2 separate regions of the Homo sapiens genome follow, and region 2 is linked to region 1. A link means that fine-mapping ties the variant in region 1 to the expression of a gene that starts in the linked region. Tissue or cell type: whole blood. Region 1 holds a variant in brackets; the other region holds the start of a gene. All regions are shown on one strand. Distances are between the middles of the regions.

Region 1 (2,753 bases):
GCCACTCCCCTCTCCCCATCCACCCGAGACCACAGCCACTCCCCTCTCCCCATCCACCCGAGACCACAGCCACTCCCCTCTCCCCATCCACCCGAGACCACAGCCACTCCCCTCTCCCCATCCACCCGAGACCACAGCCACTCCCCTCTCCCCATCCACCCGAGACCACAGCCACTCCCCTCTCCCCATCCGCCCGAGACCACAGCCACTCCCCTCTCCCCATCCGCCCGAGACCACAGCCACTCCCTTCTCCCCATCCACCCGAGACCACAGCCACTCCCTTCTCCCCATCCACCCGAGACCACAGCCACTCCCCTCTCCCCATCCACCCGAGACCACAGCCACTCCCCTCTCCCCATCCGCCCGAGACCACAGCCACTCCCCTCTCCCCATCCGCCCGAGACCACAGCCACTCCCCTCTCCCCATCCACCAGAGACCACAGCCACTCCCCTCTCACCATCCGCCCGAGACCACAGCCACTCCCCTCTCACCATCCGCCCGAGACCACAGCCACTCCCCTCTCACCATCCGCCCGAGACCACAGCCACTCCCCTCTCACCATCCACCAGAGACCACAGCCACTCTCTTCTCCCCATCCGCCCGAGACCACAGCCACTCCCCTCTCCCCATCCGCCCGAGACCACAGCCACTCCCTTCTCACCATCCACCCAAGACCACAGCCACTCCCCTCTCCCCATCCACCCGAGACCACAGCCACTCTCTTCTCCCCATCCGCCCTAGACCACAGCCACTCCCCTCTCCCCATCCGCCCGAGACCACAGCCACTCCCCTCTCCCCATCCGCCCGAGACCACAGCCACTCCCCTCTCCCCATCCGCCCGAGACCACAGCCACTCCCTTCTCCCCATCCACCCGAGACCACAGCCACTCCCCTCTCCCCATCCACCCGAGACCACAGCCACTCCCTTCTCCCCATCCACCCGAGACCACAGCCACTCCCCTCTCCCCATCCACCCGAGACCACAGCCACTCCCCTCTCCCCATCCACCCGAGACCACAGCCACTCCCCTCTCACCATCCACCCGAGACCACAGCCACTCCCCTCTCACCATCCACCCGAGACCACAGCCACTCCCCTCACCCCATCCACCCGAGACCACAGCCACTCCCTTCTCCCCATCCACACTTAAATGTACAGAGGGAAAACCACAGCATCCTTTCTACTCCAATTCACAGTTCACTGCATCCCGTTTCTCCATGGAGTGAGTACTCAATGCTTGGAAGTATTTACTAATTGCCAGATTACATTCCCCACAACAAAAAACGTGTTTGAAATTTAAATAGCAACGTAATTCTTGTGTCTAAAGAGCTCCAAGTGTTAAAATACTTTTCTGGATCCAGTTATGGTCCCATTTTTAGTAACAGGCAATTCTTCCAAACAACATGAGGAATCAAATATTTATATTATGTCATGTGTACATTTCCATCGCATATACATGCTTACATCTATATAAATATACGGCATAAATCGATTTACATAATGCATGTGTAAATATTGACATATGGGATATGTAATATGGTGTGTGTTATTTATTTATGTGATTAATATATTCAAATTTTTAGAGTTATTTTAAAGGAAAGTACACCTTG[T/C]GGAAATGGATTGGGAAATTTCAGGAGTCTCATTTGGAGGGCGCCCTGCGGTCTCTGCGCCCCCTCCCAGGACGTGCCTCTGGGGGATTCGGGATGGGGGGGGTTGTCCTTCCTGGGAAAAACAGGAGCTGGGAAGTCATAACAGGGAAGGGAGACCAGGGAGCTGACTGCAGGCTCCTTTCAGGCAGGTATTTTTAGGACTTTAGGCGGCCATGCTGATGCCCTGGGTGGTCCCTGAGGGAGCGCCCGCCTCGGGGTCCCGCAGACTCAGGGGCCCTGCCTGGGCCCTGCCTGGGATTTTCCTGCCAAGTCCATGGTCTCCTTGGGCTCCCTCCGCAACTGTGCCCCCGTTTCCTGTGCTCATCCCACACCCAGCCTGGCCCCGAACACCGTGGGGCTTTTGTTCGGGGCCCCGCACACCGGACCTCAGGATTCCATCCTCCCAGAACCATGGCCACAGAATAAGGTCCGCCAAGATGGATACCGAACGCGCCTCAAACACCTGGGGGGCGGACGTGTGAGGAGCTGGCCTCTCTCCACCCCCAGCCGCCCTTCAGCCCGGCCTCCCTCTATCCTGGACGCCTCAGCCCCTCCTCACTCTGCACCTGCTGGTCCTCAGCCCTTGGGCCCTCCCATTCCTGTGCCCTCCCAACTCCACACCAGCGGGGTGGGGCTGAGGGCTGCAGGACCACTCTACCCCCAACCTCATGCTGTGACAGGCTGAGGGGGAGCCGGGTGCCCTTTGGCCGTGCCCCATTTGTGGTCAGAGACCCCACGTCCTCCGTGGCTGGGCACATGGGCTCTGTGGGGCATCTGAGTCCATTGAATTTGAACACCAGGTCCCAGGACTTAGAACTCAAGGACAGCCCTGCCCTGTGCGATGCTGAGAGGTGCCTGGGGCATCGCAGAAACAGCTTCCCTGAAGGCTAGACTCAACAAGGCCTCCTAGGGTGACCTGCTGATCCCGGGACCCTGCTCCCTGGGAAGCCCCCCAGTGTGGCCCCTGCCCCTCTGCTGACACCCCTTGATCTCCACCCTGGCCTTGGCCCTGGCCCTGGCCCTGCCTTGTCGACAGCTCCTGGGTCATCTCAAAGGACCTCAGCCTCTTCGAGTCCCAGCTGTACTCATGACCCTCCTGGAAT
Region 2 (2,626 bases), 200 kb after region 1:
CTGTTCAGACCGGGCCAGGGAGGCTCTGAGGGCAGCAGGGACAGGATGGGCCAGAGTACCCAGGGAAGCGGGGGGGGGGGGGGGGGGGTGGTTGGGGGGAGTCGGCCCTCACAGGAGGGGAGGGGCACCACTTCCCTGAGACCAGTTCTGGTAAAAGGGGCCGAGCCTCAGTTTCCCTGTCCGTAGAATGAGACCTCAGTCCTGACAGTACCAGCTGCGATTTGGGGTGGTGGAGCAGGAGGGCCTGGGAAGGAGGGGAAGCCATGCTGTCCAGCACGAGGAGAAGCTGAATAAAGGCAAGGGTTACCCTTGAACCTCACCCCCTGCCCTCTCCCAAGATCTCCCACTCGGTGGGCAGCCTGTACGCAACTTGCACGAGTTCAATCCACACAAGCGCCTGCTCGGGCTCTGACCCTGGCTCTGCCGCTTGCCCGCTCCAGGACCTCCCATAAGTTACTTCATTTCTTTGGGCCTCAGTTTCTTTGTCTGCGAAATGGAAATCATAGTTTTCATCTCATAAATGTTGTAAGTAAATGAAATTATTTATGTAACTCCTGGGCATGTGCCAGGCACACGCTGCGCTCCAACAAACATTACAAGTTAACATTCTCGCTCCCAGGCCCGCAGGGACCGCAGAGCCTCCGCCGAGGACCCCAGCCCCCCCAACACCCGCCCTCGCCCTCCAGTCCCCCGCGCCCCCCAAGCCCCACCCTCCCTCTCCCGCGGTCCGCGGGCTCCACCAAGCGCCCACCTGCTGCGCTGCGGCGGCGGCTCCGGGGCCTGAACCCGGGTCTGAACCCGGGCCTCGGCGCCGTGGGGGGTGGACCCGGGAGCGCGGCCGGAGAGGGGAGTCAGGGTCAGCTCCCCGCAGGCGCCCCGACCCCCGCCTCCGCGCCCATCCCGCGCGTCCCCGCCGCCCCAAGAGCGTCCTAAGACACCCGGGGAAACGCCTTCCCTGTGATGCCGCGGACCCAGTCCCGTCGCGGACACGGCGGGGCGGGCGGGGGTGGCAGCGTCCGAGGCGGCGCGGGCCCTTTAAGGCGGCCGGCCTCGTTAGCATACATTTGCATGGCCCCGCCCCGCCGCTTGAGGCTGCCGCGCGGGGCTCAGTCCGGCGGGGGCGCCGCGGAGAGCGGAGGGCGCCGGGCTGCGGAACGCGAAGCGGAGGGCGCGGGACCCTGCACGCCGCCCGCGGGCCCATGTGAGCGCCATGCGGCGCCGCGCAGCCCGGGGACCCGGCCCGCCGCCCCCAGGGCCCGGACTCTCGCGGCTGCCGCTGCCGCTGCTGCTGCTGCTGGCGCTGGGGACCCGCGGGGGCTGCGCCGCGCCCGCACCCGCGCCGCGCGCCGAGGACCTCAGCCTGGGAGTGGTGAGCGCGCGGGCGGGACGGGCGCGGAGCTCCTGGGCCGGAGCCGGGGGTCTCCGCGGGCCGGGTGGCGGGGACCGGGAAGACCCCAGCAGTGCACGTCGGCGTCGCGCGGGAGCCCTGGCGCCCTGGACCCATTTCCTGGGTGGGGAGACTGAGGCAGGGACGCGGGCTGAGCGACCGGGCGAGCGCACGCGAGTCCTGGGGAGGCGCCGGCTGCCGTCCCGGCTCCGTGCGCTGGGAGCGCGCCGCAGCCGCAGGAGCCCGTGGAGTTGTGAGGGGGTCGCCCACCCGGAGCCCGGGTCGCCGGCTTGCAGCAGCCCCGGAGCAGCCGGGCTGGGCGAGAGCAGGCATCGCGGCCGCCCCGAGCTCTGCGCGCTGCGTGCGTTCCGGGTGGGAGTGGCGGGGGCAGGAGCACGCACCCACAAAGCGAGGAAGGGCAGGGGCTACGGAGTGGGGGCACCCCGAAAGCCTTGAGCCCCCGAGTTTGCTCGGTTGAGGGTGTTGGGGGCACAGGGATGCTGGCCCCCAGCTCCCCACTGGACAAGGACCTGGCCCTCAGCCTCCTTCCCCTCCACCCCAGGTCGGCCAGGCTGGCCCTGCCTTGCCCTGGTACAGTGCTGAGCCGGGGGCGCGGGGAGAGCCTTCCTCACTCCACACCCAGTAGCTGTCCCCAGCTCAGCTTAGAAACCCTGCCTGGGGGCAGCGACGTGGCCTCTTCCTACAGCCCCCTCCCCTGTTCCGCAGCCGGGACTCGCGTCTCCTGTGGACCCGGAAGATTTAGAGCACACGTCGTGGGGTCAGCGCCCCCCCGCTGGGGCGGCCGGGTGAACTCCCGCTGGGTTCGTTGGTTCCTTCTGAGGCTCCTGCCCCACCGCTGCCTTCAATGGACTCCTACCCAGGGAGTCGGGCCAGGAGCCGAGGCCTCCCCGCCCCACACAAGTACTCGGCCTGGCCCTCGTCCGCGGACAGTCTCCCAGTGGGGTCCTGGCAGGGCCCCTCGCCCAGCGCAGTGGACATTCAGGAGCTCCAAAACCTTGGGGTCCAAGCAAGTCAGCGCAGGTGTATTTCAGGCAGTCGAGGCATATGGAGGGGCCACTTGGGTGGCACCCGCAGCCCCTGTGGTTGGCAGGACTTGGCCAGGGGGTCTGGATGGGAAGCCGATTTGGCCACCGTTTGCCCCAGGCCCCGAAGCCATCTGGGAGGGTGCTGGCCACTGTCCCTGCTGCCCGCGTCCAGGTGCCTGCAGGTCCCCACAGT

What was found. PIP is the estimated chance that this variant, and not a neighbour inherited with it, causes the effect.
Region 2: it holds the start of MMP17, and the variant in region 1 is fine-mapped to the expression of MMP17 in whole blood (TOPMed, PIP 0.95).

Annotation. Positions count from the first base shown.
Region 1 is chr12:131,626,690-131,629,442 of GRCh38, forward strand. No RefSeq gene overlaps it. Among named protein-coding and RNA genes, the nearest start is that of LINC02414, 20 kb to the right of the region's middle. The variant T/C (reference allele first, on the strand shown) is at 1,612.
Region 2 is chr12:131,827,285-131,829,910 of GRCh38, forward strand. It overlaps MMP17 (matrix metallopeptidase 17), which reads left to right and starts at 1,109. Exons shown (of 10, transcript NM_016155.7): 1 at 1,109-1,369. The coding sequence starts at 1,211. RefSeq lists a silencer at 974-1,103.